Homo sapiens: one gene and its partners. The protein of the gene in region 3 purifies or fractionates together with the protein of the main gene of each other region. This does not show direct contact. Each region holds a gene or a part of one and is shown on either strand. Other genes may lie near its edges. The genes, in order: ZC3HAV1L, HARS1, PCLAF, CAST, RRBP1, TPR and PARG.

Evidence for each region.
Region 1: the proteins of PCLAF (region 3) and ZC3HAV1L purify together in Homo sapiens (affinity purification with mass spectrometry, with the first as the bait; one large-scale study listed by BioGRID). This does not show direct contact.
Region 2: the proteins of PCLAF (region 3) and HARS1 fractionate together in Homo sapiens (co-fractionation; one large-scale study listed by BioGRID). This does not show direct contact.
Region 4: the proteins of PCLAF (region 3) and CAST purify together in Homo sapiens (affinity purification with western blotting, with the first as the bait; one study listed by BioGRID). This does not show direct contact.
Region 5: the proteins of PCLAF (region 3) and RRBP1 purify together in Homo sapiens (affinity purification with mass spectrometry, with the first as the bait; one large-scale study listed by BioGRID). This does not show direct contact.
Region 6: the proteins of PCLAF (region 3) and TPR purify together in Homo sapiens (affinity purification with mass spectrometry, with the first as the bait; one large-scale study listed by BioGRID). This does not show direct contact.
Region 7: the proteins of PCLAF (region 3) and PARG purify together in Homo sapiens (affinity purification with mass spectrometry, with the first as the bait; one large-scale study listed by BioGRID). This does not show direct contact.

What each region holds. Positions count from the first base shown.
Region 1 is NC_000007.14:139,032,982-139,037,427, forward strand, and holds the start of ZC3HAV1L (zinc finger CCCH-type antiviral protein 1-like), read right to left. Parts: upstream 3,062-4,446; 5' UTR 3,037-3,061; coding exon 2,672-3,036; intron 1,698-2,671; coding exon 1,562-1,697; intron 1-1,561.
Region 2 is NC_000005.10:140,677,517-140,681,473, forward strand, and holds part of HARS1 (histidine--tRNA ligase, cytoplasmic), read right to left. Parts: intron 2,368-3,957; coding exon 2,272-2,367; intron 1,612-2,271; coding exon 1,486-1,611; intron 500-1,485; coding exon 392-499; intron 238-391; coding exon 139-237; intron 1-138. UniProt on the Homo sapiens protein: Catalyzes the ATP-dependent ligation of histidine to the 3'-end of its cognate tRNA, via the formation of an aminoacyl-adenylate intermediate (His-AMP). Plays a role in axon guidance.
Region 3 is NC_000015.10:64,378,378-64,383,058, reverse strand, and holds the start of PCLAF (PCNA-associated factor), read left to right. Parts: upstream 1-1,617; 5' UTR 1,618-1,687; coding exon 1,688-1,733; intron 1,734-2,020; coding exon 2,021-2,101; intron 2,102-4,681. UniProt on the Homo sapiens protein: PCNA-binding protein that acts as a regulator of DNA repair during DNA replication.
Region 4 is NC_000005.10:96,660,657-96,665,337, reverse strand, and holds the start of CAST (calpastatin), read right to left. Parts: upstream 2,963-4,681; 5' UTR 2,916-2,962; coding exon 2,841-2,915; intron 2,314-2,840; exon of another isoform or gene 2,202-2,313; coding exon of another isoform or gene 2,172-2,201; intron 1-2,171.
Region 5 is NC_000020.11:17,661,609-17,665,565, reverse strand, and holds part of RRBP1 (ribosome-binding protein 1), read left to right. Parts: intron 1-3,957. UniProt on the Homo sapiens protein: Acts as a ribosome receptor and mediates interaction between the ribosome and the endoplasmic reticulum membrane.
Region 6 is NC_000001.11:186,330,122-186,334,078, forward strand, and holds part of TPR (nucleoprotein TPR), read right to left. Parts: intron 3,274-3,957; coding exon 3,001-3,273; intron 2,223-3,000; coding exon 2,074-2,222; intron 1,461-2,073; coding exon 1,377-1,460; intron 1-1,376.
Region 7 is NC_000010.11:49,921,230-49,925,186, forward strand, and holds part of PARG (poly(ADP-ribose) glycohydrolase), read right to left. Parts: intron 1,441-3,957; coding exon 1,318-1,440; intron 1,191-1,317; coding exon 1,107-1,190; intron 1-1,106. UniProt on the Homo sapiens protein: Poly(ADP-ribose) glycohydrolase that degrades poly(ADP-ribose) by hydrolyzing the ribose-ribose bonds present in poly(ADP-ribose). PARG acts both as an endo- and exoglycosidase, releasing poly(ADP-ribose) of different length as well as ADP-ribose monomers.

The DNA of each region.
Region 1 (4,446 bases), on a different chromosome or scaffold from region 3:
GGGATCACTTGAGGTCAGGCATATAAGACCAGCCCGGCCAACATGGTGAAACGCTATCTCTACCAAAAAGTACAAAAATTAGCTGGGCATGGTGGCACGTGCCTGTAGTCCCAACTATTCAGGAGACTGAGGTGGGAGAATCACTTGAACTCAGGAGGCAGAGGCTACAGTGAGCCGAGGTACTTCCAGCCTGTGTGAGAGAGTAAGACCCTGTCTCAAAAAAAAAAAAACTATATAAGTCTGATGTTTTCTTGTGCAAGCCTTCTAACTAATGCTTTGAGGTTTGTTTAATGCTTTTATTTTAAAAATTTTTATGACACTATTTTGGCTTTCCGTTTCTTCTTGAATCCATTTTGACAAGCTGTATTTTTCTAGAAATTTGTCCATCAATGCACCAGCATGAAACTTTACCTGTCTATTGTCTTTTTTATTGAGAGAGTGGTAAAAGCAATCATCAGGCATTTCATACAAGAGATGTGAGGCACCATTCTTGCCTCATGCACTGTGTTTTTCCACAGTCCCTGCTGCCCACATGATCACGTTTTGTGCCACATGTCACCTACTTCCAGTCCCAGGTGATGGGGACAAGTGGAGGCACAGGGGAGGCTCCTGTTGTAAGTGCAGCCAACCCATCAGCTGCTCACAAAACACTGAAGTAGTCTAATATGACAAGGTGAGGCTGGGCCCAAGATACATCCTAAAAAAGGGCATACCAAAAAAACATTCGATAGATTTGACAAAATAAAAACACTAAACTTCTATAAATCAAAAAGTACTATAAAATTAAAAGGCAAATAGCAGCGGCACCACGCCTTCTCTCTGAGACAGGAAGGACTGGACCCAGCCTCATAGGTGCAGCCACCCTCCTCTCCCTTCCTGCCAATAACCTGCTTCAGCTACTGCTTGCATCTACTTTGGGCAACATGGTTGGTTGGAATGCCTCTGGCTCACAACCGTGACATACCAGACTTGGCTTCAGTGCTCGAAGAAATGAAACAGGTTATGCATGTCAGGAAGAAACCTGCTTGTTCCTGAGATCAACTCCAGGACTGCCTTCTGGGTACAGATTCTGCTGCCTTGAGAGCAGCCTCTGCCACCTGCACCAAAGGCTCCAGCTCCTACCTCTAGTCTTGTGGCTATCTTCCTTTCTAGACGCTGAAATGCATTAGAGTTAAAATCAGGCCACAATTATGAACTATCCTCTGTTTTCTCAACATCTCCCCTTCTTCCCATCCCTCTTCTGGCCAAGTGGAGGTGTCTATGATAGCATCACTGTGCTAGATTAGAAAATCTTGCTTTTAATTGGTGGTCTTAATTGATGTTCCAATTTTCTCTTGGGATTTGTACTATTTTGTTTTTAAAACTTCTTTGTGTATGGCTAAACTGAAACAAACGTACTATTTCGCCATGATAGCAATTATAAAGGGTACCTTTAAAGCATTTGAAACTGAATCATGTTGCTTCGAAGGCAATTAAAATTAATATGTAAAGCCAAAAGAAAAATAAATGGGGAAAGTACTTGTAGCAAATGTGACATGAGGGTGACTCCTTGGTGACTCACCTCTGGTAAAAGACAGGGGTCATTCTGCAAAAGCAGGATCCGAAGCTGGTTTTCATTGAGACCAAAAAGTCCATGGCTTTTCAGGACCTGCATGTTGACAGGTGTGTGGATATCATGGGAAAGGGTACAGGTAGACCTAAAAGAACAAAGCCCTCGGTCAGATGCCCAGGTGAAGAAGGACCAGTCTGTCCAATTCCTTGCCTTGAGCAGCTTTCAATGTATTTAATACATGTGAAGTTGAGTAATTTTCATGAAACCGGGGATAGTATGGCCTAATAAGCACTGATGGAAAATAAGAAAATTGGGTTGAAGGAACTCCTCTCCCAGGGTCATTTGAATTTTCAGTAGGGATGCTTTGAAGCCAAGGGTCGCCCACCTCGCCTGAGGATGCACATCTGTTCCGTAGGCGACTGCACCTGGCCTTCTCCCCGGCAACAGCTGCCACAGTCCACCAACGTTAAAAAGAAAGCGCCCCTATCCCCAGCACCGCTTTGGCGGGGTGTGTGGCTAGAGACAACCAAGGAAAATTCGGGGCTGTGAAGCACAGCCTGGGGTCAGGAGGCAGCCCCGAACCCCAGCTCTGGCAGTCAGGAACCACAGGGCCTCACCCAAGCCATCCAGCCCTGTTTCCTGGGGTGAGACTGGCTCAGCGCTGTTAAACCTAGAGGGCGCAGACCCGCTTCTGCACAAGTGTGTGGATATGGGGGAGCAGCGATTTCCGGCTAAAGGGTCCAGGGATCTCATGGGATCCTCAGACGCCCCACGCCCCCCACCTCCCGCCAAATATCACCAGAATAAGTGAGCTCCGAAGTCCCAGTCCGGATTTAACCCGGCCGCGTCGCGCAGGATCCGGGGGGGCGGGCGGGGGCAGCAACTTTTCTGGCGTGGGCGGTTGAGACGTCTCCATGGAGAGGACCTTCGCGCCTTTCCGCCCAGCTGCTGGAAGCGCGGGGGAGGACGCCCAGGAAAGGCCTGCGGGAGGGGGTCGTCCAGCCCCGCGTCCCCGGCCCGGGGCAGGACGAAGCCCCCCTTCCCGTCGCTCCCGCTTCCAGCAGGACGGCCAGGCCCGCGGCCAGCGCCCACAGTCCCCGCCCGCCGCCGCCTTCTCACCAGCAGTCCCGGTTGGGGCACTTGCCCAGCATGTGCCGGCGGCAGAAGTGCAGCTGGTCGCAGGCCTGGCACTCGCCGCGCTGGTAGCGGGCGCAGAGGCGCACAGAGGACACGGCCACCACCCTCCAGGCGGAGGTGCCGCCACCGCCCACCGCGCCGGCCGCCGCCTCGGCCTCCGCGTCCCCGAGGCCCTCCTGCGTCTCCACCTCCTGCAGCAGGAAACGCTCGGGCCCGGCGCGCTGCAGCACGTCCCGGAGCCTGGCCTCCGACAGCTCCACGTGGCCGCGCAGGTCCTTCAGGAACATGCGGCCGCCGTGGGCGCACAGCACCTTGGTGAGGAAGGAGCACACTGTGGGCTCCGCCATGGTCGCTGGCGCGGGCCCTGTGCGCGCGGCGCAGCGAGCCGGGGCGGGCAGGCTCCTCCCAGTCACGTCCACGATTTCCAGCGAACAGCCCGGGGATGGGCCTGGGCCTGGCGAGGGGTGGGCCTGCGGGAGGCCGGGCGAGGGGCGGCCCCGGCGCGTGGAAGCAGGGTACGGCGCCTGCGGATCCCCTGGACGTGGACTCAGGCGGGGACAGCGTTGATGGAGCGTCTGCTCCGCCCAGGCACCGTTCAGGGCGAAGCCTGGCCTTGAGGGGCTTGTATAGTGGGAGTCACAAAGGACTCGCCAACAAGACAACTGGTAGTGCTAGGGAGGCCTGCGGAGAAGGAGAAATAGGTAAAAGGTGGTAGGAGGTGAGTGGCCGGGCTGCTTCGCGGGAGGTGGCCACTAGCCACATGTGGCTGCTGAGCACTTCTGGGATTTTTTGTTGTTGTTGTATTTTTATTTTTGGAGACAAGGCCTCACGTTATCGCCCAGGCTGGAGTGCAGTGGCGCTATCGTAGTTCGCTGCAGCCTGGAACTCCTGGGCTCAAGCGATCCTCCCACCTCAGCCTCCTGAGTAGCTGAGACCGAAGGTTCGCATCACTAATTTTTTTGGTTTTTGTTTTGCTTTGTAGAAACGGGGTCTCCTCATGTTGCCCAGGCTGGTCTCGAACTCCTCAAGCGATCCACCTGCCTCAGCCTCCCAGAGCACTGGAATTACAGGCGTGAGCCACCCCGCGGGGCCTGCTGAGCTTTATTGGAAAGTGGCTAGTCCGAATTGAGATGTGATATAAGTGTGAAATACACACACTAGATTTTGAGGACTGAGAATGAGAAAAAGAATGTAAAATATCTCACTAACTTTATATGAATCACATGTTAAACATAATATTTTGGATATATTTGGATAAATAAAATGTTATGACAACTTCATGTGTTGCTTCTACTTTCCTAATGTAGCTATGAGGAAATTTTACATTGCAAATGTGGATTACCTTATTTTTGTTGAGCAGCACCAGTCTAGACCTGCCTTAAGCATCCATGCTTTTTGTCCAACACCTTGCTTGTTTCATGAACGTTTGTTGAGCCAACTACTAACGCAGTGACAGTACAAAGATGAATCAGACCATCAGAGAACTCAGCCAGCCTAGCTGCTATTTTGCAAGGTGCTCGTGAGGATTAAATGCATTAATGTCATGTAATGTAAAGAAGCTAGAGAGGAAGACAACTGGCCAGATGCCAGAAGACCTTCTCTGCCATGCTGTGAAATTTGGACTTATATCCCGAGAACTTTGGGAAGTCACTAAAGGATTTTCATCTGGGAAGTGTGGATGTCTCCTGAGTGCCACTCAAGGTGTGTCATTCAGCTCTGAGCTTTAATGTCTTCTCTTCAGCAAAACCTTTCCTGAC
Region 2 (3,957 bases), on a different chromosome or scaffold from region 3:
GCCCATGAGCCTACATCCTGGGGCTAACCTTCCTCTGGTGGGTATAGAGGCATGCACCTCTCTCTCTCTCAATCTTGTTTTCCATTTCCCAAGGCAGGGTGGGATCTGGGAAAAGAAGTCAAGTACTTGGGTTGTTACCTTGTCCAGCTTGTCTACTGAGGAGCAGATGGTACGGAACTTGCTGTCAGAAACACCACAGATAGCAAACATCCCATCTAGAATGCGTCGATCGTTTACCTGCAAGGAACCAATGCATAGTGAGGGGGGAATCTCTTTTCTTACATGACCTGCAATAGTCATGGTCACTTAGGCTACTGGTCCCTCTGCACAAGGATCTTCTCTTGTGAGAGGCCAGGCCCAACTTTGCCCTCCCAGCCTTGTCAGCTCTGACCTTGACCAGGAAGTCGCCTATCTGAAGTGAACTCAGGATCTCGCACATGATCTTCAGGCACTCTGCATCAGGGATCATGGGATCAAAGTTCCCAGCAATGTCAAAATCCTGCAGGGAGAGGGTTAGCCAGCGGTCTTCAGGGATTCACCTTTCTGAAGGGGGGACTCTGGGAGCTCTGTCCTCTAGGAAGGCCTGGTTGCACTCAAGCATAGAATTTCTCTTTCATTTTCTGATCATCAGCCCAGAGGTAAACCCCGGCATCTTTGGGCTTCTCACCAGTTTTGGTTTCCTTTCCATCTACTGGGCTATTCCTTCATTTTCTACTTCATCATCTTCTTAACTCCTCCTACTGGATGGGGTGATTATATGGCTTTAGTGCTTAGCCATTTTCCCTATTCATCCAGAAGCCCTGGCATCAGTCTGGATGATTTGATGTATCAAAGCTAATTTCCTTATTCTCTGCTGTGATCCTATCACTGTGGTTTAAAATAAAGAGCACTGGACCAAGAGTTCTAGTCCTGACTTTGCCTTTCTTATCCCTATGATCTCTTCATGGGCTGGGTATCAAGTTTACTCATATGTAAAATGAAGAGACTTTATTCTCCTCCCCCACCACAGGGATTTTGTGAAATCTGCATGAAAACACCATAGAAGAGGCTGGGTGCGGTGGCTCACGCCTGTAATCCCAGCACTTTGGGAGGCCGAGGCAGGCGGATCATGAGACCAGGAGTTCGAGACCAGCCTGGCCAACATGGTAAAACCCCGTCTCTACTAAAAATACAAAAAATTAGCCGGGCATAGTGGCAGGCGCCTGTAATCCCAGCTACTCAGGTGGCTGAGGCAGAAGAATCGTTTGAACCCAGGAGGCAGAGGTTGCAGTGAGCCAAGACTGCACCACTGCACTCCAGCTTGGGCAACAGAGCGAGACTCCGTCTCAAAAAAACAAAAAACAAACAAAAAAACCACCATAGAAACCCTAAGAGCATTATCTGGGTCATCCAATTTGCTCAGGACACCGTGAGTACTCAATAGATTCTGCTGGCTTGAGAGAGCCCCAAGTAACTCATCCTGCCCCACGGTTTCCCAACACTCACACACTGGTAGAATTCCCGGTATCGGCCACGGGTCATGGCTGGGTTATCCCGCCGATATACCTTTGCTATGTGGTAGCGTTTAATGTTGGTCAGTTTATTCATTGCCAAATACCGAGCAAAAGGAACCTGATGACAAAGAGTTAAGGAGAAAGCCCCTCCTATCACTGTCTGCAAGTTGATTATCATCACCAACAGAAGCTGGGGTCTAACCCCTCCCTATGTGGGTAAAACTGCCACCCATAAGATTAATAGCACTTACAAACATCAGAAAGCATCAGCTGTGCTACCACATGAGGTAGCTGAAGGCTCAAAAAAGATTAAGGCACCTTTCCCTTTTGTAGTGTTGACTGGACTTTTTTGAGCATGGCAAGGGGCTGGGCAGGTTGGCCACAGACCAGAAAAAGGCGACCAGAAAAAGGCCCCCATATGGGATTTCTAAGCAGATGATTCTCTGTGTAGCTTGGAGACAAGGGAAATGTGTTGCTAGTCCATTAAGAAGAATTTTGTTCACTGGACAGGGCAGGGGAGAGGTATTCTGGAGCCAGGGGATGACTGTAGAGTTGGAACTGGGCCCTGACATCAAGCTGAGGTCTCACTCAGGATTCAGAAGATTTCTAAGGATGTGTATGCTCTGTTTAGCCAAAGTTCCACTCCTGGTTTAGAGAAATAATTCCCCTAATCGCCAAAGGCCTCATATTTGATCCTACCTACTCTACCATTCTTAAACCTGAGCCAAGTGAGTGCCAATCCATCCAAAGTCTCAAGAGCCCAAGTTTAGAAAGATACAGTGAGGTCATAGCGAAGGGACAGGAGCTCCCCGCCCTGGTCCTTCAGGTCATAGATAAGCTTGGAGTCTTCCCCATACTTTCCCATCAGTGTTTCCTGGAGAAAACATAAATAAATGTGGTCATAATAATAAACATAACAATTTAAAAGGAAGTTTTGAAAACAAACATGACTGATTCCAACTTGTCTACATTTCCCTCTGCTCTTTATCCCAATTCTTAGGTGTCTGATGTAGTTATCATTAAAAGGAAACACCAATTTTGTGTTTTTTTCTATTTTGATTTTGTAACAGAGCTGAAGTATTTTTCTTACACATTTTCCTCTTAAAAATCTTTTTTTTCTTCAGACTTCTCAGCATGAAGTTTGTTTTTTTTTTTTGAAATGGAGTCTCGCTCTGTCACCAGGCTGGAGTGCAGTGGCGTGATCTCGGCTCACTGCAACCTCTGACTCCGGGGTTCAAGAGATTCTCCTGCCTCAGCCTCCAGAGTGGCTGCGACTACAGGCGGGTGCCACCATGCCCGGCTAAGTTTTGTATTTTTAGTAGAGACAGGGTTTCACCATGTTGGCCAGGATAGTCTCGATCTCTTGACCTCGTGATCTGCCCGCTTCAGCCTCCCAAAGTACTGGGATTACAAGTGCGAGCCACAGCGCCCGGCCTGAAGTGTTTTTAAAAGATGCATAAATTCCAGTGAGAAGAAGCTCTGTACTTACTTCCTCCCTCATGTTATACTGTTAGGTGTTTAGGTTATTCTAATTTAAAAAAAAATTTTTTTAGGCCAGGCATAGCGGCTCACGCCTGTAATCCCAGCACTTTGGGAGGCCAAGGCGGATGGATCACCTGAGGTCAGGAGTTCGTGACCAGCCTGGCCAACATGGTGAAACCCTGTCTCTACTAAAAATACAAAATTAGCTGGGGGAGCTGGTAGGCATCTAATCCCAGCTATTCGGAGGCTTAGGCAGGAGAATCGCTTGAACCCGGGAGGCAGAGGGTGCAGTGAGCAGAGATCGCACCATTGCACTCCAGCCTGGGTGACGAGAGTGAAACTCTGTCTCAAAAAAAAAAAAATTCCCCATAACATTTCAATATCTAATATTTAGGTATATAGCTCTTTTTTTTTTTAAAAAAAAGTATTTTTCTTGATGATAAACTACTAGGAATAGGTTATCAGACCAATAAACATAAATGTTTTTTGATGCCTGAGATTCGAATAATGTCAAAAGTAAAAACTGGGGAATGTCTTAAGGGCATTACAGCAGTCCTTGCCCTGTGATGTCTATCATCGGTAATAGCATATTTCACTTACCAGGTTGGCAAAGATTAAAAAGCCTGAAACTTCCCAGTATGCAGTATCAGAAACAGTAACACACTAGTGTTACGGGCTGAACTGTGTCCCCCTGGCCCCACCCTCCCCAATTCATTTGTTTAAGTCCTAACTCCCAGTAACCTCTGAACATGTCTACATTTGGTGATAGGGTCTTTAAAGAGATGATTAAGCTAACATGAGGTCTCCAAGTTGGGCTCTGATCCAATATGTTGTTGTAAGAAGAGAAAATTTAGATAGGGACAGAGGGAAGACGATGTAAAGACAAAGGGAGGCTGGGCGCGGTGGCTCATGCCTGTAATTCCAGCACTTTGGGAGGCTGGGGTGGGCGAATCACTGGAGGCCAGGAATTCAAGACCACCAA
Region 3 (4,681 bases):
AGTGAGCATTTAACAGAATACATCCCAAAGCAAGTTCATCTGATCCTGTTTTTTGTTGTTGTTTTTAGAGACGGAGACTCGCCCTGTCGCCCAGGCTGGAGTGCAGTAGCGTGATCTCGGCTCACTGCAACCTCCGCCTCCCGGGTTCAAGGAATTCTCCTGCCTCAGCCTCCAGAGTAGCTGGGACTACAGGCACATGCCGCCACTCCCAGCTAATTTTTTATTTTTTATTTTTATTTTTATTTTAGTAGAGACTGGGTTTCACCATGTTGCCCACGCTGGTCTCGAACTCCTGAGCTCAGGCAATCTGCCTGCCTCGGCCTCCCAAAGTGCTAGGATTACAGGTGTGAGCCACCATGCCTGACCGATTCTGTTTTATGTATGGTATTTAGAGAGTGAAAATCACTCCCCAGGGGTGTTGTGAGTAATTAGAAGGTAAGCATAAAGATAGAAAAAAATTATGACCCTTTATCCTAGAGTTATGCTCACTGTGTGACAGCGATGTGGTCTTACCACATTTGGCAGGGTCTTTTCGTTTCGTTTCGTTTCATTTCATTTCCTTGCCTTGCCTTGCCTTTCTTTTCTTTTTTCTTTTCTTTTCTTTCTTTCTTTTCTTTTCTTTCTTTCTTTCTTTTTTTTTTTTGAGACAGGATCTCGCTCTGTCGCCCAGGCTGGAGTGCATGGTGTGATTATGGCTCACTGCAACCTCTCCCTCCTAGGCACAAGCAATCTCCCGTCTCCTGAACTCAAGCCATCCTCCCACCTCAGCCTCCCGAGTAGTTGGGATTACAGGAACATGCCACTGCACCCGGCTAATTTTTGTATATTTTTTGTAGAGACGGGTTTCACCGTGTTGGTCAGGCTGGTCTCGACCTCCTGGGGTCAAGCGATCTGCCCGCCTCGGCCTCTCAAAGTGCTGGGATTACAGCCATGAGTCCCCGCTCCTGGCAGATTTGGCAGATTATTTAGGAGCTCTGACACCATTCGGTTCTCAAGAAGACGTTTTATTAGTTTCTTTTTATGTGTGTATGTATATACAATCCCCCTAGTTTTTGTTTAGTCTCACATCATCCTAAAGACATTTAAAAAAACCCTTGTAAACAAGTTGTATTAGCTTCCTTTTCCCCATTCCATAGAATTGTTTTAGTATGGATGCTGTACAAAGAGTTCATGCCTGGGGGACTAAAGGAAAGTTCTCAAGTTCTTTTAATTTTGATTTGCATCAAAAAGTCCGCTTAATTTCAGGTTTCACCTCCAGGAGTCAATCATTATGGACTTAAAGCTATAGTAACTTTTGAAGATCGTTTGTAATTCGCTGTCTTTGCTAGGTTTTCTTTTCTAAGCAGGCTCATTTCTGTAGTTCAGAAACTTAGCACCCACTAGTCGGGTACCCCTGGAGAGTCCTGGTACCGCCCACCTGGGGCGCCTACGAATCCTAGGCCTTTGCGTGTTGATGGACGGATTCGCGCTGCAAGAAGCCTCGCCGCTGTCACCACTGGGCATTGGCAATTGGTTCAGGGGGAACGGCGCGGAACCAATGGGAGCGGTGGCTCGGGAGAGACCTTGGAGCGCGCGGGAAAGAGACCAATATAAACTGTGGCGGGATAGTTTTCGGGTCCTTGTCCAGTGAAACACCCTCGGCTGGGAAGTCAGTTCGTTCTCTCCTCTCCTCTCTTCTTGTTTGAACATGGTGCGGACTAAAGCAGACAGTGTTCCAGGCACTTACAGAAAAGGTGAGGCGATCGAGTGTGGTACTGGAGGGCGGGGGGGTCCTCCCGGCAGCCTGGCCACGGGCGACAGACGCCAGAGGTCCCCCTGGGCCCTGTGCGCCAAACTCATCTAGCTAGCCAGGGAGTAGCCGCCTGGCCCCTTTACCTAGAAGAGGAAGTCGCAGGGGCAGGGTAAGGTTATCCTGCTGTTCTGGATCGCCAGGCTCTCCTCTCCAAGCTGCTGGGGTCCAGGACTCGGTGTCGGAACCCTCCTGCCCCTTCTGAACACCCTTTTTTGCCTCTCTTCACAGTGGTGGCTGCTCGAGCCCCCAGAAAGGTGCTTGGTTCTTCCACCTCTGCCACTAATTCGACATCAGTTTCATCGAGGAAAGGTAAGAAGAGCCCTCCTAAAGTTAGGGGATCAGTCCTGGCACCTGCAAGCCCCTGGCTTGCCATGAATTTCTTTTTCTTGAGGTACTCACGCCCGAATTTCTTCCTTGCCCTGTGATATAATAAGAGAGGCTGGGCCTTTTGGCCGGCTAGGGTAGAGGTGGGGGGGAGGTCTCATGGAAGGGAATTTCAAGCCTTGGAGTTAAGGACCGACACACCTTATCTTCAAGCCTATTTTTCTTTTCTTTTCTTTTTTTAGACAGGGCCTCTCTTTGTTGCTCAGGTTGGAGTGCAGTGGTGCAATCACTGGTCACTACATCCTCCACTTATGGGGCTTAAGCAATCCTCCCACCTCAGCCTCCAAAGTAGCTGGGGCTACAGGTACATGCCACCACGCCGGGCTTTTTTTTCTATTTTTTGTAGAGATGGGGGTCTCACTATGTTGCCTAAGCTGGTCTCAAACTCCTGGGCTCAAACAATCCTCCTACTGGGATTACAGGCATGAGCCACCACAGCCAGCCTATCAATTTTTGTTTTTTGGTTTAGTATTTTCCTTTTTCTTTCTCTTTCTTTTTTTGAGACAGAGTCTTGCACTGTTGCCCAGGCTGCAGTGCAACGGTGTGATCTTGGTTCACTGCAACCTCCGCCTCTCGGGTTCACACGATTCTCCTGCCTCTGCCTCCTGAGTAGCTGGGATTACAGGTGCACGCCACCACACCCAGCTAATTTTTTTGTATTTTTAGTAGAGATGGGGTTTCACTATGTTGGCCAGACTGATCTCAAACTCCTGACCTCATGATCTGCCTGCCTCAGCTTCCCAAAGTGATGGGAACACAGACGTGATCCACCACGCCCAGCTATTATTTTTCTTAATAATAACAGAGGCTATTTAAATATTGTTAGAGGCTATTTAAAAGCCCCCTTAGTAGATTAAGGGTTTGAACAATCGTTAACAGTGCTGAGTGCTCATTGCAATGTCTACTAAACTTTAATAAAAATGTTTTTGTTTTTGTTTGCTTGTTTTTCCTTTCTTCCTTACTCTTTTTTGTTTGTTTGTTTGTTTGAGTATGATGTCTGTGGGTTTTCTCCAACTTTGCAGCTCCTAATACTGTCTTTGGGAGAGTAGGAGTGAAACCCGGCAAAGGAAATAGCTTCACGCTGCTCCTTCTGTGCGTGGAGTAGATGAGAAAATGCCCTGCCATCTGGTGCCTCATTCCTTTCAGTAGGAAATTTGGCAGACAGGGAGATTAACGCTACAAGATTTAATTAAGAACATAAAGGTGAACACTGTTTAGGACTTCATGGGTTTTAAAGTCAATTCAAATTTCTCCCTATTATAAACATTTCATTAGAAAACATTTACTATTTCTATCTCTTCAGATAAAAGGAAATAGAAGTTGATGAATTTTTTTAGAGTAACTTATACCCTGTACCACTAGACTAAGTTTCTTTTTCTTTTCTTTTTTCTTTTTTTTTTTTGAGACAGGGTCTCACTCTGTTGCCCAGGCTTGAGTGCAGTGGTGCAATCACAGCTTACTGCAGATTTGACCCCAGGGTTCAAATGATCCTCCCACTTCAGGCTCTTCCCAAGTAGCTGGGACTGTAGGCGCATGCCACCACACGCCCGCCTAATTTTTGTGTTTTTTGTAGAGATGGGGTTTCATCACATTGCCCAGGCTGGTCTCGAACTCCTGGGCTGAAGCAATCCTCCCGCCTCAGCCTACCAAAGTGCTGGGATTACAGACGTGAGCCACCACGCCTGGCCTGATGAAATTTCATTAGAGCCGCATCTCATCGTCTGGTCCACTGTTGAATCACCAGAGCCAACTAAATAGGCCCTTACTGAATATATGTTGAATAAATGCATCCTTTAAGGCATTTTAAAAATCTCTATTTTTAATCCGAATAATTGGATGTATGAAATGGGTAATATCCTTATTTTAAAGATAAGGAAATTTAATATCTGGTTATATAACTTGATAAAGGTCACACAACTAAATCAGTGGAGTTGGGTTTGAACCTGTTGCTGCTATATTTTTTTTTTTTTCTGAGACACAGTCTCGCTCTGTCACCCAGGCTGGAGTGCAGTGGCATGAACTCGGCTCACTGCAACCTCCGCCTCCCGGGTTCAAGCAATTCTTCTGCCTCAGCCTCCTAAGTAGCTGGGATTACAGGCATGCGCCACCATGCCTGGCTAAATTTTGTATCTTTAGTGGAGGCAGGGTTTCACCATGTTGGCCAGGCTGTTCTCAAATGCCTGACCTCATGATCCAACTGCCTCGGCCTCACAAAGTGCTGGGATTACAGGCGTGAGCCACTGCGCCCAGCTGCTGCTGTATGTTTTCTAGTAGTAAAAGCATTCCTGTAAGGTTCCTTTGGGAAAACTGTGAACCAAAAGATCACTATCTTTTATATGCCATTCCTTCTTTTGGAGGCGAAGGCGGGACGGTTGCCTCAGCCAGGAGTTTGAGACCAGCCTGGACAACGTGGCAAAACCCCATTGCTATTTTTATAAATGTAAATAAATAAGTAGAAACAATATAACTTCAGAGTCTATATGGAAACAACTTTTGTAAGCATTC
Region 4 (4,681 bases), on a different chromosome or scaffold from region 3:
ATGAAATAATAATATGTGGGATATAGTAGGTTAAGTAAAATATATCAATTAGCACAAATTTCACCTGCTTTTTGTTGTGATGTTGTTGTTAAAGTGGCTCCTTGGAAATCTGAAATTGCAGACGTGGCTCACATTATGTTTCTATTGAATAGCACTGGTTTGGGCAAAGCTAAAGCTTGATCACAGGCATGTAGCTGGTTCTAGGAAGTTCCTACTAGCAAAAAGTTTTCATGGTAGTACCAAAATGGGATTCTAAGAGAGGTTTTAGCAAAAACATCAGACTGTGACTAAACAAAACAGGGTTAAAAGCATAGATTCAAACTACTTTCATCCAAGTAACCCAGCAGAGTTTCCTTGAGAGAATCATGAGTCTGGAAGGAGAATTTTGATGTCAACTCTGAACTACTGCTATCCATATTTGCAGATAAGGTACATGGTACATTTTGATAAGAACCTTAGGCCAATAATGACTCAAAGCAAATTGATGTGGTTTGTTCTTACCACATCAATCAAATGCTACATGTAAAAGCCCAGGAAATGTACTGGAAAACATTCATGAAGAAGTATCTCAAGGGAAATTGGAATTCCAAATTCTTAAAAGTATATGTGTATGACATTTTGACTTTTAAATCTAATTAGTCCTCACCAATACTTATGTAGTGCATATAATTTCTATTTTACACATGTGAAAACAGGTTGAAAAGGTTGACTTATTTCCATTTGAGAAAAACTCTTTGTTCTCCACAGTGTACATGGAGGCTTTAAAAAGCACCTGTAGGCCCAGTGCAGTGGCTCATGCCTGTAATCCAACATTTTGGGAGGCTGAGGTGGGAGGATTGCTTGAGACCAGGAGTTTTAGACTAGCCTGGGCAACATAGTGAGAGAGACCCTGTACAGTATATTGTATGTGTGTGTGTGTGTGCATATATATATATATTTACACATATATATGCACACACATATATATGCACACACACATATATTTACATATATATGCACACACATATATTTACATATATGTGTAAATATATATATGCACACACACTGTAAATATACACACATACACACTATACATATATACTATTTATATAGAAACGGAGAATAAAAAATAATCTAAAAAAAAACACTACTTGTGGGATATAATTCTGCCTGGCACATAATAGATGATCAATAAATGTCCATTGTCTGATAAGTAACAGTTTCTTTCTTGATTCTTATACAGGGTAGCTAGCTCCAAAGAATGTCTGATTCCAACATCTTTGCTTTTTCCAATACCACATGCCAAGAGAGAAAAAGACATACCTAATTTTTTAATTCTCACCATAAATCAATGAGACATAAACATTTTGGCTCTCACTGTCAACAAAACTCCTGTGTGTGATTTTTTTTTTTTTTTTTGGAAAGCAATCTAATGTTAAATCATGCTTCCTGGTTCCAAAACACTAGAAGTGCCAGCTTGACTGGATATTACACCTAATTGGCAGGACAAACATTCAATGCACCAAACAAATGGAATGTTCTTGTCCCTCATCCAAAGTAATAAAGTGCAGAGAAGCTCGCTTTTGTGCGCGCTGTCTCTCTCTCCCTCCCTCTCTCACTTTCTCGCTTTCTTTCCTCCACCCCTCCACCGCTCTCTCCAAGGGTCTTGGTCTCAGATCTCAGTTGCTTCTGCCCCTTGATGTTTGGGATTTTCTCCTTGCCTCACATTGCAGCTGCCTCTCCTTTGCGTCGGCGAATGTACGTCCAACAATCGCCCTCTAAAAGTTTTGAACTTTACTTAGGGGTTAAAAAAGAACTCTAGATCAAAGCTCTTGCGAGCTGCGTCCTAGTGCATTCAGGAATCCACCTCCTAGACAGAATTCCTCCAGCAACAATTCCAGTTCCATCCCACTTGTGAGCGCCAGCAGAGCATAGTGCTTGACATCGGGGCGAGAGAGGTGCATGCGCCGCGCACGCTCGGGCGCGCTCATACATACCACAAGAGGGTGAGTCCCCTGCCTCTCCCCGAGCCTAACCTGAAGGTCTGCGAGGAGGTCGCACCCGGTCCGCACCCCTTCCCCGCCAAACCCCGGACAACGCTTCATCCGCACGCCCAGAAGGGCAAAGCAAACACACTCCCTTCCAACACACTCCCTTCCGGGTCCTGCCCAGGCACAACCGCTCCTATTTACCGTCTTGTACCACCAGCTGGCGAATGCCATGGCAACAACCGGCTGGCTCCGATCCGCACGGCGGGGGAGCCGGCGAGGGCGCGGGGTGTTGCGTTGGAGGCGCCGGGCTCACACTCCGCTTGGCCGGGACCGGGCTGGCACTGAGCTCCGCACATCCCAAGGCGGCTGCCAGGTGGGCAGAACCCTGGGGGTGGGGCCCGGCGCAGGCCCCGCCCCTCCTCGCCCGCCCAATTTGGCTCGAGGCTGGTTAGGGAAGAGGCTCTGCGTCTCCAGGCAGCCACGCCCTGCGGCCCGGCCTTAGCGCGGAAGACTACATCCCGCTGTCCAGTGAAACCACCCCACTCACTCGGGGGTCCTGAGTGAACCTCATTCCCCGTTCATCCTCATCCTCATTCACCCACGTCTTACCAGCCAACTTTTCTTGACGCGTCCCCCCCTCCACTCTACCCGGCCAACGCCACGCCCAGCGCACTGGACCCGGCCGGGGAACCGAAGCCACCTGCAGCCACCTGCCTGGCAGCGGCCAAGCCCCTAGCCCTCTCCCTGCCCCGCGGGGGCGCCGGGGACTGCAGACCCGCCAGCCTGGCAACGCCCAGGGAGGGCGGCCACAGCTCCGGGACCCGGTACCCCATCGCCCAGCCCCGCGACGCCGACAGGAGCGCCACTCACCTCATGGGTGCGGCGGGCGGCGGCTGCTCGCCGGGGCCGCGGGGAGGCGGCGGGCTTCTGGCCGGGCTGGGACATGGCGAGGCCGCTGCGGCCGCTGCCTCCCGGAATGCGCCGCGGAGAGTGGCGGGGAGGCCTGGCGGGGAGTCCTGCCAGGGAGAGAGGGAGGGAGGGAGGGAGCGGAGGGCCCGGGAGCGGGCGATGAAACAGCTTTTCCGACCCCACCCCAGGTCTGCGCCGGGGTTCCCCTAGCCCCGATGGGCCCTCCCCTTCCTGCCCGCGGAGGGACCCGGGCTCCTGCCCTGTAACTTAACACCCTCCGCCCCGGTCCTCACCCGGTGACCCGCCCCGGCCCCAGCACTGCTCTGGTCCCGGTTGGTCAGAAAGAAGGGGTTGGAGGTTGCAGCGTTCCTCCTTCGATGCCCAGATCTAGCTTGCAGTTGTGCAACGAGAGAGCGGGACCCGGGCGTGGCCAGTCTACGCTTCGACCCTCCTCCCAACAATCCGGAGAAGTAGATACTCTTTCTACATTCTGCTCCGCTTTAGCTGCGAGAGTTTACCAACTCAAATCTGGCCCAAGCCTGGACAGTCTAGATAAGGAAGCGGATCACAAAAACAAATTGGTCTGTGTGTGTGTGCGTGCGTGCACGCGCCTGTGTATGTTTTATATGATTTTACTTTGTTTTTTGGCAGTTTCGAATTTTAATAAACTTTTATGGGGAGGAGAACATAGGTTCCAATGCAAAACGGAGAACAGTCCCAAATTTAAACCCTTATAGTCTTTCTAGAGTCTGGCGAGTTTTGTTTCTGAAGCTAGATTGCTTTCTTCTTGGGCTCATCTTAAACAGCGCTTCCTGGTTTGGGGCTGGAAGTGAAATTTAACAAGCCCTACGTGCTTATGTGAGAAACTGTCAGCCTGCAGTTGCTGCTGGTTCACAATCAGGCCTGACAGAAAACCTGTTTGTTACCCTGCAGTAGCATCATCATTCTGGGACTTGGGGTCACCGCTTTCTGCAGCGTTGGGGTTTAGACAGTTGAAGAGAGAGAAGGCAGAGCCTTTTTTTTTTTTTTTTTTTTTTTTCTGGAGAGGCAGTTTCGCTCTGTCTGGAGTGCAGTGGCGCGATCTCTGCTCGCTGCAATCTCCGCCTCCCAGGTTCAAGCGATTCTCCTGCCTCAGTCTCCTAAGTACTTGGGACTACAGGCGCGTTGTCACACCCAGCTTTTTTTTTTTTTTTTTTTTTTTAATGGTAGAGACGGGGTTTCACCACGTTGGTCAGACTGGTCTCGAACAACACCTGACCTCAAGTGATCTGCCCAGTGCTGCCTCCCAAAGTGCTAGGATTACAGGCGTGAGCCACTACAGCCGGCCAGAAGGCAGATTTTAAGGAGAGATTTGTCATGCTATATGGAGCCTGGCAGAACAGAATTCTGGTTTCCTTTGTACCTCCTCATTTTAGGAATTCTGACTTCTTCTTCAAAGGATAGGCTAGCAGCATTCTTAATTTTGAGGGAGGGGATGCGGGGAGAAGAGGATTTAAATGCATTTCCTCTTAAAGTGTCGTACTTACTGTCTGTGTATCTAGTATTTCAACAAACAGGTAGCACTGCAGGAATTTATACATAAAAATGAAACAACTTAGATATTGGGACTATGTCCACTCAGGAAAAACAAATGATTGTTGGCATCGGTTACATTCAGAAAGGAGGGAAACTATGCCATAAGTCTGAAAACAAGATCTTCTTATGATTGTGACCACACCACTACAGTAATTTAAACAAACACAAAAGCTGTAGGGGTGAGGTGACAGGCAGCTCCTCCTTCCTGGCCTCCACCCCAGGAACTA
Region 5 (3,957 bases), on a different chromosome or scaffold from region 3:
CCCCGTCTCTACTAAAAACTACAAAAATTAGCTGGGCGTGGTGACACACGCCTGTAATCCCAGCTACTCGGGAGCCTGAGGCACAAGAATGGCTTGAACCTGAGAGGCAGAGGTTGCAGTGAGCCAGGATCATGCCACTGAGCTCCAGCCTGGGCAACAGAGAGAGACTTTGTCTCAAAAAAACAAAAAGAATAAACCAAAGCTATGTGTATCTATATGAATATTCTCACAAAGTTTAGTCAAAAAATGTTACCAAATAGCACCCAGAACAATGTCACTTACACAGCAATTACCAACACACAAAGTAACGGCTGTATTTTGTTGGTAGAGATAGATACATGTAATAGAAGCAAAAGCAGGTGGAAGTGGTAAGTGGCCCATTCAGGGTGTTGTCCCCCTCTAGAAGGGAGATGACATATATATACATATACACATGTGTGTGTGTCCCCCCCCCACATATATATGTATACACAGGCACATACATATATATATAAATAAATATCTAAAGTGCATATGGCAAAATGTTAGGGTTTGGTAAACCTGGGTGGTAGGCTAATGGATGTTCATATTTTTCTTTTTAGTCTTTTGTATGAGTCATTTCATAATATTTTAAAAATTAGGAGCTGTTGATTCTGATGTAGCCATGTCTGCTAGGGTCTCTGTTTTATTGTCATTCTGTTTTAGTTCTGTACCTTCCTAGCAGGTCACCTTATGCCCAGGAAATGGATCTGGGGGTTGGTTTTCTTTGTCCACCCCTACCCCACAGCTTCTCCAAGCTTCCACACACGGTCCCCCGTGGAGCTGCTGCTTAGTAATGAGACAGAGTCCTGGGAGCTGTTGAGGGTCTTTTCACAAAACCTACCAAAATCCCAGCTGCCAAATTGGACCCAACTGGCTTGGCCGGGCCATGTGAATTAGCAGATATCTTCTGTGTCTAAAGAGTTTGGGGCTTCCTCTTACTTTTGTTCCCCGAATCTTAAGAACAGAAGAAGAGCCATTCTCTCAAGATCTTAGAGGTGGGCCAGTGAGTTCAGTCTGTCCAGCCTCTGCGCAGCCTCCTACATCCTTCCCTCTTGGGGCCTTCATCTTTTTGTCTTACAGTCTGAGTATGTTAGCAATATCGTAGTCCCCCTTTATCTATGGTTTCACTCTTTGTGGTTTCAGTTACCAGCAGAAAGCTGTGGTCTGACAATATTAAATGGAAAATTTCAGAAAGAAACTCTTCCTGAGTTTTAAGTTGCATGCCATTCTGAGTAGCGTCTTGCCTGGGATGTGAACGATCCCGTGTGCAGTGGATTCACGCCGTCTGTGTTACCTGCCTGTGCGTCACTTGGTGGCCCTCTCAGCTTTCAGATCCACTGTCTGGTATCACAGTGCGTGTGTTTGAGTCACCCTTACTTTACTTAATCATGGCCCCAAAGTGCAAGAGTGGTGATGCTAGCATATGGTTATAATTGTTCTATTTTATTATTGTTAATCTCGTACTGTGGCTAATTTCTAAATTAAATTTCATCATAGGTATGTAGGTATAGGAAAAAAATAGTGTATATAGGATTCAGTATTACTGCAGTTTCAGACCCACTGGGGGTGTTGGGAAGTTTCCCAGAGGATAAGGGAGGACCACTGCAGGGAGTAAAAGTACGTATTTGACAGAAGTTTCTGGAATTGACAGAATATAGATCCCTGTGGTCAGACCCTACAAGGTATGGGTGGGCACACATCTGCCCTAACTCTGGTGCAGTGGAGGAAGCCCTAGAAGAGGTTTCTGTTGGGGGCCTCTTATCATGGTGTGGATTTCAGGAGCAAATCTCCCGGAATGCTGATTGTGAGAACCGAATTTGAGAGGCATCCCTGGCTTCATCATTTCTGTGAATCAGGGATCTCCCAGCATGATGTTTACGCCTCACTGAAGCTGACTCTGCAAAGCAGCAGAAAGGTTGTTTTTCATTTCGATTTCTTTGCTGTCCGTGGTGGTATTGCCTTAGCCTTAAATGTTTCAGTGTATTACTACTTAAGACTAGGGCTTTTCATTTTCTTGTGAAAGATTTCTTTTAAAAAATTCTAACTTGGGAATTAGTGGTGGGGATGTAATTTCTTTTTCTGCAAAAGTTGGGAAGACACATTTGTGCTGCTATAAAACATATATTTGTGTGCGTTGCAAAGGAAAAATATTCTCCCGAGTTTGTTTTTCTCGATTCTGGGTCCCAACAGAGAATATGTTTTTGTATTCTGTGTTTGCCTATGTTGAGTAAGATTAAAAGTTCATTTTCCAGCCTTGGCTTTTCTGCTGGAGTTTAGAAGTTGGAAACCACAAGGCTGCACAGAGCCCCACAGTCCTCGGCTGTGAACAGGCCCCGCTTTGTGCGTGGCTGTTCACTGTGTCACGGTCTGCAACCAGTGCCAATCGCGACTCGGTAAAGACCACCCCTCGAGCACATGGTTGTTGGGAAACGATTCGGGGTTTATGGAGCCTCAGTGAGGGTGACCCAGGCCCCTAATGTTCGTTTCTCTAGAGAAGGGGAGTGTTTTAGAGGATTTTTTATTTTTTTTTAAATAGAGATGGGGTCTCACTATGTTGCCTGGGTTGGCCTTGAACTCCAGAGCTCAAGCGATCCTCCCTCCTCAGCTTCCCAAGGTGCTAAGATCACAGGCTTGTACCACCATGCCTGGCCTTAGGATTTTTGAATGTAGTGATTATAATGTGGTGTCCATTTTGGCAGAGTTCTGAGAAATCTTGTAAGTACCCAGAGGAGTTTTGGTTGGTGGGTACCTGCCAAAAAGTGAGGGTTGACTGTACCATGTTCCAGACCTTCTTGTCCCCATCCTCCTACCCACTGAATCCATCCATGGCTGAGCAGGGTGCGATTTCCTTTTTAACACCCAGCTTGAGAGTGTGTTCTCGGAAGGCCAGTTCCTGGTATCCTCCCTCGATGATCAAACGTGAGAGTGCCCTGGCTGTGGATCACACTGTCACTGCCCACGGCCAGAGGTCAGAACCCATTTGGAAATATAAATGCTGCCTTACCCAGGATTCAAAGGCCTCCATGAGCTCCCCTAAGACTTTGTAGAGGTTAAGACTGGAATGAAAAGTGTGACTCAGTCTCGCTCAACGCCGAGTGACAGTGTGGGAGAAGTGTGTTGCCACAGCAGCTGATAGAGTTGTCCCCAGGGAGAGCATATGCTAGGAAGTTTCTTCGTCATGAGTGTTTTAAACCCTCTTCTTGTGAAGGTCTTAGAAAGGTCAAAGTAATGTGTTCCTTCTGTGATGAGAGTGATTTTTTTTTTTTTGAAAATTTTTTTTTTGAGACGGAGTCTCGCTCTGTCGCCCAGGCTAGAGTGCAGTGGCGCGATCTTGGCTCACTGCAAGCTCCACCTCCCAGGTTCATCCCATTCTCCTGCCTCAGCCTCCCGAGTAGCCTGGACTACAGGCACCCGCCGCCACGCCTGGCTAAGTTTTTTGTATTTTTAGTAGAGTCAGGGTTTCACCGTGTTAGCCAGGATGGTCTCGATCTCCTGACCTCGTGATCTGCCTGCCTTGGCCTCCCAAAGTGCTGGGATTACAGGCGTGAGCCACCGCGCCCGGCCGAGAGTGATTTTTCTTAGAACACAATGCCAAGACATTGAAAACAGTCTCCCTTCTCAGTCCCTTCTTTAAAATGCCCTCATGTCAAAATTTGGATTTGATTCCTACTCTGTTTCCTTCCTCTATAACCACTCAAGAGGAGTGGGGATCTCAATGTCTTAGGAGAAGAATCTCAGTATCTGAGCCACTAAGCAGCCTGGACCCAGTCTCCCACAGCATCTAGAGGTTTTGCAGGGCAATGCTGGGGGAGGCCTGTCCACTTCCCCTCCTCTCCTCTTCCACCTCCTTTTACCTCCCCTTAACCACCCCTTCTTACCCTTGTGTTCTCTTTGCTCATTCCATCGATCTTCTTTAGAGAGACTCGGGACTGGCTT
Region 6 (3,957 bases), on a different chromosome or scaffold from region 3:
GAGACCAAAATAGATGCCATTTTCTCAACTAAGACAAACCCTAAGGTTAAGGAAACAAAAGTTACCCGTAGGTCAAGGGTTCAGGGCCTGTCTGGCATGGTAAATTTCTAAATTCATATGGTTACAATAAAAAAATATAAGCCTTTGCTAAACTCCTCTAACTGGAACTATCGGGCAAGTTATCAGACTCCTATCTCTGATTTACAATCCAGACCACTACAACTCTGACTGTAGAGAGCACTGGCAAGGAACTGCAGACACCTTAAGCTAGTTTCAACCTGCTTAAAGAGGCTGCGCACAAACTGTCTTTGTGTCCTGTAGTTCACCTTTTGTTCACTCTTCACGTAAAGAGCCAAATTCCAGCTCATTTTCATGCTAAAACGCTGCCCCAAAGTGAACATGGGATGTATATTATATATATTTACCTACTGTTTATATGCTCAGTTCCCCTCATAAATATGTATAGCGTTTCCCCAAAACCTGCTGAATATGCATGACTCTATTGTGTAATAAGGACCCTGTGAGGCATAAAACCACACCTGTCCCTGCCCTGTGTGAAGACAGAACACCTTTGGTCCACGCTGGAGACTATTTCTTCCTCATGAGCAAAATGATATCACTAATAAAGCTCTCCTTTCTATTAAACACTATTTAGCCACCCTGGGGGTCTTCTTGATGACAATATGAATTCTCATTTTGTGGGACAGAAGGAAGAAAGGAAAGTAATAATATTCTGAGTGCCTAATATGTGGCAGGTACTACTTTAGGTATTTTACAATCCTAAAAATTATATTTTTTGACAAGTGAGACAATGCAGGGAATTAATGATATGCTTACAGTCACAAAGCTTCCTAGTGGTGGAGCTAGGAATGACACCTCATGCTTTGTAACTTCAGGGTCTATATTCTCTCCGCTAGTAAAACTGCTAGGGGAACCTCAATGAGAGATCAAAAAATGAAGAGGTATATAAATGCATTTCCTTTTATGGATTACTTTAATTCTGTAAGGGAAATAATACAGGGGAGTAAGAGAGAACCAGCAAATGGGGCACTATAAATTAACTCAAGATGCAACCAGCACTCTTGTATTTCATGTAATTAAAATAGGGAAAAATCTTGGCTCACAACTCTAAAAAATCTGGAAATCTGTGCTATATATGAACAAAAACATTTCTTTAATATAAGTTTAGAAGGCAGTACACTATACTCATAGGAGTAAAAGAAAGCAGACTCTGCAATGATTAATTCTAGTAGTATTTCATTACATATAATAAGAACAAGCTAAAAAAAAAAAGACCAAATAATGTTTCAATTTGTCAAAGCTAATTTCATTCACGAAAAGCAACGGTGTGGTACTTTAGGTATGTTTTTACTTACTTCTCCAATGGAATCTTGAGAATCCTGGTTGTATACCTGAGTCTCTACCTCTCCATCAGTACTTTCTTCTGCCATAACTTCTTCCTGTATCATAATACACTAATATATTAACCATATCAGTGTAGTAGATGAAGGGTTACCTGTTTTTGTTAGTTCTCTCATTTGAAAAAACCCTTCAAATCTATATTTTATGAAACTATAGAAAAATAAAAAAATTTTATTTAAAAATTATAATCACATTCCTCCTCAGTATACACAAAGTAAGGTTTATGAACATTAATACATGCTAATACAATTAATTTAGTAGCCTTAATGTTTGATTTGAAACCTGCTTCATTACAATTTAATCTTAACCACAAAAAGGAATATAATTTTGGCTAATCTTAGAAAAAGATAGCAGGTAACAGTTTATGTCCATGAGACTTAGAAACTTCGAGATGAAATTCAACTTATGTTTTTATGACTGAGCTTTTTTATTGAAATAGAAACAAATGCAATTAAAGATATGCAAGAATATAAAACACTGTTGGTAATAATACCTGGGTTGTCAGTGGAATCTTTGTAGAAAGTTCAATAAAAGTGTTTTCCAGATAATATATTTTGGCCCCAAAAGGTTAATTTTCTTTAGGCTGTAGCTGAAAAGAGTACCTTAACTCTACTGGTAAAAGTTAAAATACACAGAAAGAACTTTACGCACCTCAGTTCCTACAGGTGTGACACTTTTCAACTTCTTTGGAAGAGGCATTTCCACTGTATCATCAGAGACTTGGTCTGATGCTTCTATGGTGCTATCCTCTTCCTCTTCACGTGTACGCTTTGGCAAAGAAGAACTGGGGGTAGCCGAAACTTTGAAATTATATAAATCTTGAATTAGAGCATGATAATAACTCAATTTAGATAAAGATAGTTTACCCAATATGGTCACTTAACTAAAGGAGAACACAGTAAACATTTAATTGTACAGATTACTAAAATACAATCAATCAACTCCTAGATCAATGTCCATCAACATAATTTGTTTCTGCTAAGCTATGGGTAAACAAAGAGCAACTTATGCTCTGAGTCAATGTTTTTATACCAACCCAAGCTTTGCTTAATAAAGCCAGCCAATTTTTACAATATATCTGGTTCACTGAGATTGTATTACTATGTTGTTATCTACAAAGTTTACATGGGACCTTCTATAAAACTCAGGACTCCTTGAATAAGAAAAAATGTACACTGTATGTAAATCAGTATATAGTCTTATCTTAGGTGTCTTTTAGTCCTCAGGACTTCCGTTAAATTATATACAATGTTTTGCATTAATATGTAAGACCAGTAAAAAAAATAACTGGAGGGGGAGAATCATCTTAATGACAAACAACTGATTTAAAATAGTCATATTCAGTAGTAAACATGAAATAAAATGTTAGTAATATATTCATTCATTCTAATTCCTGGTAGAAAGCATGTATGCACAAAGAATACTTGTGATACGTATTATATCCAAGATATTATAATTGCGTAGGTCTATTCTAACTTCATTTGTACAAAGAATACTCAAGATATATATACTCAAGATACACTCAAGATCTTATAAATGCATAGGTCTACTCTGACTTCATTTTAAAATTAATTTTACCTGTGCCAAATACTGCTGTGGAAGTAGAAGGCCGCTCAACTGGTGAACTCTGAACAACCTCTACTATGTTTGAAGATAACTCTTGATTGGCAGGCTCAATCTGAGGATGACTCTGTTGAGTGGGTTGCACAAAAGCTGTAGCCTGTGTTTGTTGCTGAACAGTTAAAATAGGTTGAGAGATAGAAGGCTGGACATTAGGACTAGTAGAACGAACGGATCCACTTGTGCTTCCAAAAACTGGAACATGTTCCACAGGCCCTTCTGACTGCATAGCTGAAAAATAATTATAATGCTGAATATAAGCCTTCTACTTTTATCAAAGCTGAAATTATCCTTCCTATTCTGTGGTACATGTCACCTTTCACACAGATTTGGCACTTGGTAGACAAATACATTGTAGGTAAAGGTAATGTATTATGCATTTTTATATTCCCTATGTAATTGATATGGTAGCATGCAATAAAATGTTGCCTGAATTAAATAAATATCTGTAACTGATTTTGCATCTATTCATTTAAATTACTGTTGAATAAAATTAATGAAATTAAGCTCAAAGTAAAATTAGAATTTTTCATTAAGCATCATTTAGTTTTTAATTGATATAACAGATAGTAAATTTGATTAGTAATATATTTAGTTTATTGGATGTAGCTGAAATAAAACATTCTCTACTTTCACAGCACAGAAATACTTGAATAATTTACTGAATTCTAACATTTGTCAAGATAAGAATCTAAGGAAATATGCAGGTAGCAAAGTTTTACTGAACACCTACTGTGGAGTTAGGTAAAGGGATTAAACAATAAGAAGCTGAGATTTTTGCCCTTGAGGAGCTCAATGTAGTGGAGTAAAAAGCATGTATACCACAGAATAAAATACAAAGTTGTAATTGCTGTAATGAATAACAAGAGTGTCATGGGAAAAAATTGAAGAAAGCAATGAAATGGTCAGTTTCAG
Region 7 (3,957 bases), on a different chromosome or scaffold from region 3:
TTGTATCTAAAGCCTTAGAACTAGTCAGGTGCTCCTCCCACCTAATACCATTTCTTACCCCGTAATCCTACCTGATTTTTAACAAACCATTAATAATTCTAATGATAATCTCTATTTTGTTTTGTTTTTTTGTAACTGTTTTAAATAAATCAATTTGTACTGTAAAAAAGAAAAATAAACAGTCTGCTTTTCTTTTCTTTTTTTAAAAAAAGAGCCCATTAGAAGATTGAGAAACACTGTCCCCAAGGAATAAAGCCTTCAAAATACATTATGATATAACATATCAATGTTTTCCATGTAAAGAAAAAAAACAGGAGCTACAGAAAGGTATAGAAAGTTTAACAATAACTTGCAAGTATCAGTAGAAAACATTAAGAAAGCTGAGAAACTATATACAACAAATTAAGTCTCTGAAAGAAAATAAAACTCATTTTCATAGAAGTATAAAAAATTCTGTCACTGTTTATATTTATAAAAACATGAAAAGTTTTCATGGCTATAGTGCCCCCAAATATAAATATATATATATACACACACACTCTCACTCATATTTTAGATATTAGAAAAACAATCTACTAGTTACCCTTGCAGTCATAAATGAAATATAAATATATCAAAAATAAATTATTGCCAAAATATAAGATTAATAAATTATTAAACTGCTAGGAGCTATATTAAGGGCAATAAAAACCAGAATGCTTAACATATACTTTAATCATTGGGAAACTCAGCTTCCCTTTGGGCAAATATTGCTGAAGTCATAATTCTTTCCTGATTTACTTTTAAAGATATTTCAGAAACATGATAATTTTAAAACAAAAAAAAGAAAGAGAAGCTTGCACTGAAGGAAATTGGATGGGGAATCAAGAAACAGAGGTATTATTCCTGGTTCTCCAAATTATTCTGTGTGGCTCCAGGCAAGGCATTTGCAACTCTCAGTTCTTCTCATTTCCTAGTAGAATGTCTCTAAGGGGCCTTCCTTAGTGCCAGGAAGCAAGCATTTTGCATCTAAACAATGTTGCTACCTGAGTCTATTAAGACCAAAAAGTCTTTGAAAGAGGAGACACAGGGCCCATAAACAGGCAAGCATGGTAAAAACAACATACCTTCAAGTTTTGGGGTCGTGTAAATTTGTTGAGAAGTGCAGTCTGAATGAGCTCCCACCGGCTCCCCGCAGTTCGCTCACCATTCTTTTGGAAAAAAGAAAAACATATGAGGAAGCTATTCTAAGTTGTTTTGCATCACAGAATCAAAGGTCAAACAAGCAAGTACCAAACCATTTTTCAGAGACTAAAAGAATCTCGGTTTTGTTCTTACCTCATCTTCCACTGGGTACAAATTTTGTTCTGAACAAGGCATTTTAACATGCTTGTTATCCCACAAATCTTTATAATGTGTTGGAAAAGGTTTAGGAACTTCTCCTGCTCGCAAAAGATCTACCTGAAATTGAGGGTAAACAAAATTGTCAGTGCATAAAAACAAAATGTATCTTCTATAAAATAATCCTAAGTAACCAAAGCAAATGCTATAAAATAGAGACCAGCTCCCAGGCAAGAAATCACCAAAGAACCCTTCAGTTCTTCCCATTCCTCACCTCCATTCAACCAGGTCCAAGTCACCAGATATAGTATATATTCTAGCTCCATATCCCCTAGGAATCCTTCCTTGCCTCAGCTTTTACTAAGTGTTTCCTATCCTTCTCCCTAACTCCAGCTGTTGCTAGACACATCTAGCCCCCATAAAACCCTTTCTAAAGAACTCCCAGGCTTCTAATGCTATAACGCCTATACTCTGATTCTAAGTGTCATCCTGATTTTCATATACGTTCTTATCAAAACACCATTCATTCCAAACAAATCTTAAACAACACTTAAAATTCCTTAAACATAGCAAATTCATTTTCATATTTATATGCCTGTATACATACTACTGTGGCCTCTCTTTTTAATACCACTACTACCAATTGCCACCTCCCCCACTGTATCTGGTTAAATCTCTATTGTCACCTTCATAGCTCTGCCAGATTTTCATTATCTTTATGAAGTCTTTAGAAACTTCAAAGTAGTCAGCTATTTATCTTGTTTTGTTAGATTATTATCATGCTAGAGCACACTTGTCTTCCTCTCCCTCACTAGATCCCAAACTTCCTGAAAATAACCATATTAACTTTGTATTCTGAATATGTAAGATAGAACCTGGTATGTGTACATGTGTACGTGTACACATGCAAATATATATATACACACATATGCTACTATAATAACTATTAAGTAAATGTTTGAGGAAGTGGTACAGTAGGTAGCCAGTCAGACATGAGCAGGGCAGGACAGGGCCCCTACCACTACCAGGAATGTCAGACAACCCTCAAGTGATGCACAGGGAGTTGTGAAACTGCCTCTGTAAAATAATTGGAAGCAGCCGGCGCCAGGGAAAGGAGTCACCCAATAGATAGAAAAATCTGAAATTGGTGATCAGCAGCTTCCTGTTAAGATCTTAGGAGTTGGGCAAGTCAGCTCCAGCATGTGTACTAGGGAGCAAAATGGCAAAGTTTAACTGGTATATGACCTTATAAGAACACTCAACTGGTAAGGGAAGAATACCTCAAGCAAGCATATGTACAACTCCAGTAATCACACCGCGCATGCAGACAGCCCATCTCAAGGGAAGAATCAGGGGAGAAGGGGACACAACCCCCTGGAAGCATGCCAACATATAAAACCTCAAGTCAAAGGTCAAACTGTGTACTTGATCTCTCAAGTCGCCCGCTTGGCCCTCTTCCAAGTGTACTTTACTTCCTTTCATTCCTGCTCTAAAGCTTTTTAATGAACTTTCACTCCTGCTCTAAAACTTGCCTTGGTCTCTCATTCTGCCTTATGCCTCTCAATCAAATCCTTTCTTCTAAGGAGGAGTATTAACATTGCTGCAGACCCATATAGATTTGCCACTGGTAAGAGAAAGAGATTATGGTTTAAAGTTTAACATTATGCCTATTCTGGATATTTCATATAAAAGAAATCATATAATATGTGGCCTTTTGTGTCTGGCCTTTTTCACTTAGCATAATGTTTTCAAGATTAATCCATGTGGTAGTATGTATGAGTACTTCACTGCAGAGCATAATCACATAAATATATAATTTCACTTGTAATATGTTATGAATACGAGGAACACTGTGTTATGAGACCAGCTCAGATTTAGTTTATCTGGTAAACTTAGGTAAGGCTTCCTTGAGGAAGTGGCAACTGAGCTTAACTCTAAAGGCTAAAAAATTAACAAGGAAAAGGGTGAAACAAAAATAAAATTCTAAGCCCCGCAACCAACTGAATGGGCCCCTCCCTCAGCCAAGGGCATTCTAAAGCAAACCCCATACACTAGTTCAGGCCATGATGGGAACGGGTGGTTGGACATGCTTCATTATACCTTCCTCCCTTTGAAATTTAGATGTGACTGACCAGCATTAACATTAAAACAGGTACTTTAAGACTGACAAGGCAGACTCTTTATAGCAATTAAGATACCAACATGACAGATACCAAGCTCTGAAAGAAACGGAAGTATTTTACCCCAAAATGTATTTATTTGAAATATTTTGAAATGGCCCTGCTAAACTGTGTCTTGTGGGTAAAATCTACATTGTGTAGAGCAAGGGTCCCCAACCCCCCGGAATCCAGACAGGCATGGACTAGGGGTCTATGGCCTGTTAGGAACCAGGCTGCATAGCAGGAGGTGAGCAAGGCTGAGCTCTGCCTTCTGTCAGGTCAGTGGCAACATCAGATTCTCATAAGACGAAGAACCCTATTATGAACTGTGCATGGGAGGGATCTAAGTTGCACACTCCTTATGAGAATCTAACAAATGCCTGATGATCTGAGGTGGAACAGTTTCATTCTGAAACCATCCCCCAACCCATGGAAAAATGGTCTTCCATAAAACTGGTCCCCGGTGCCAAAAAGTTGG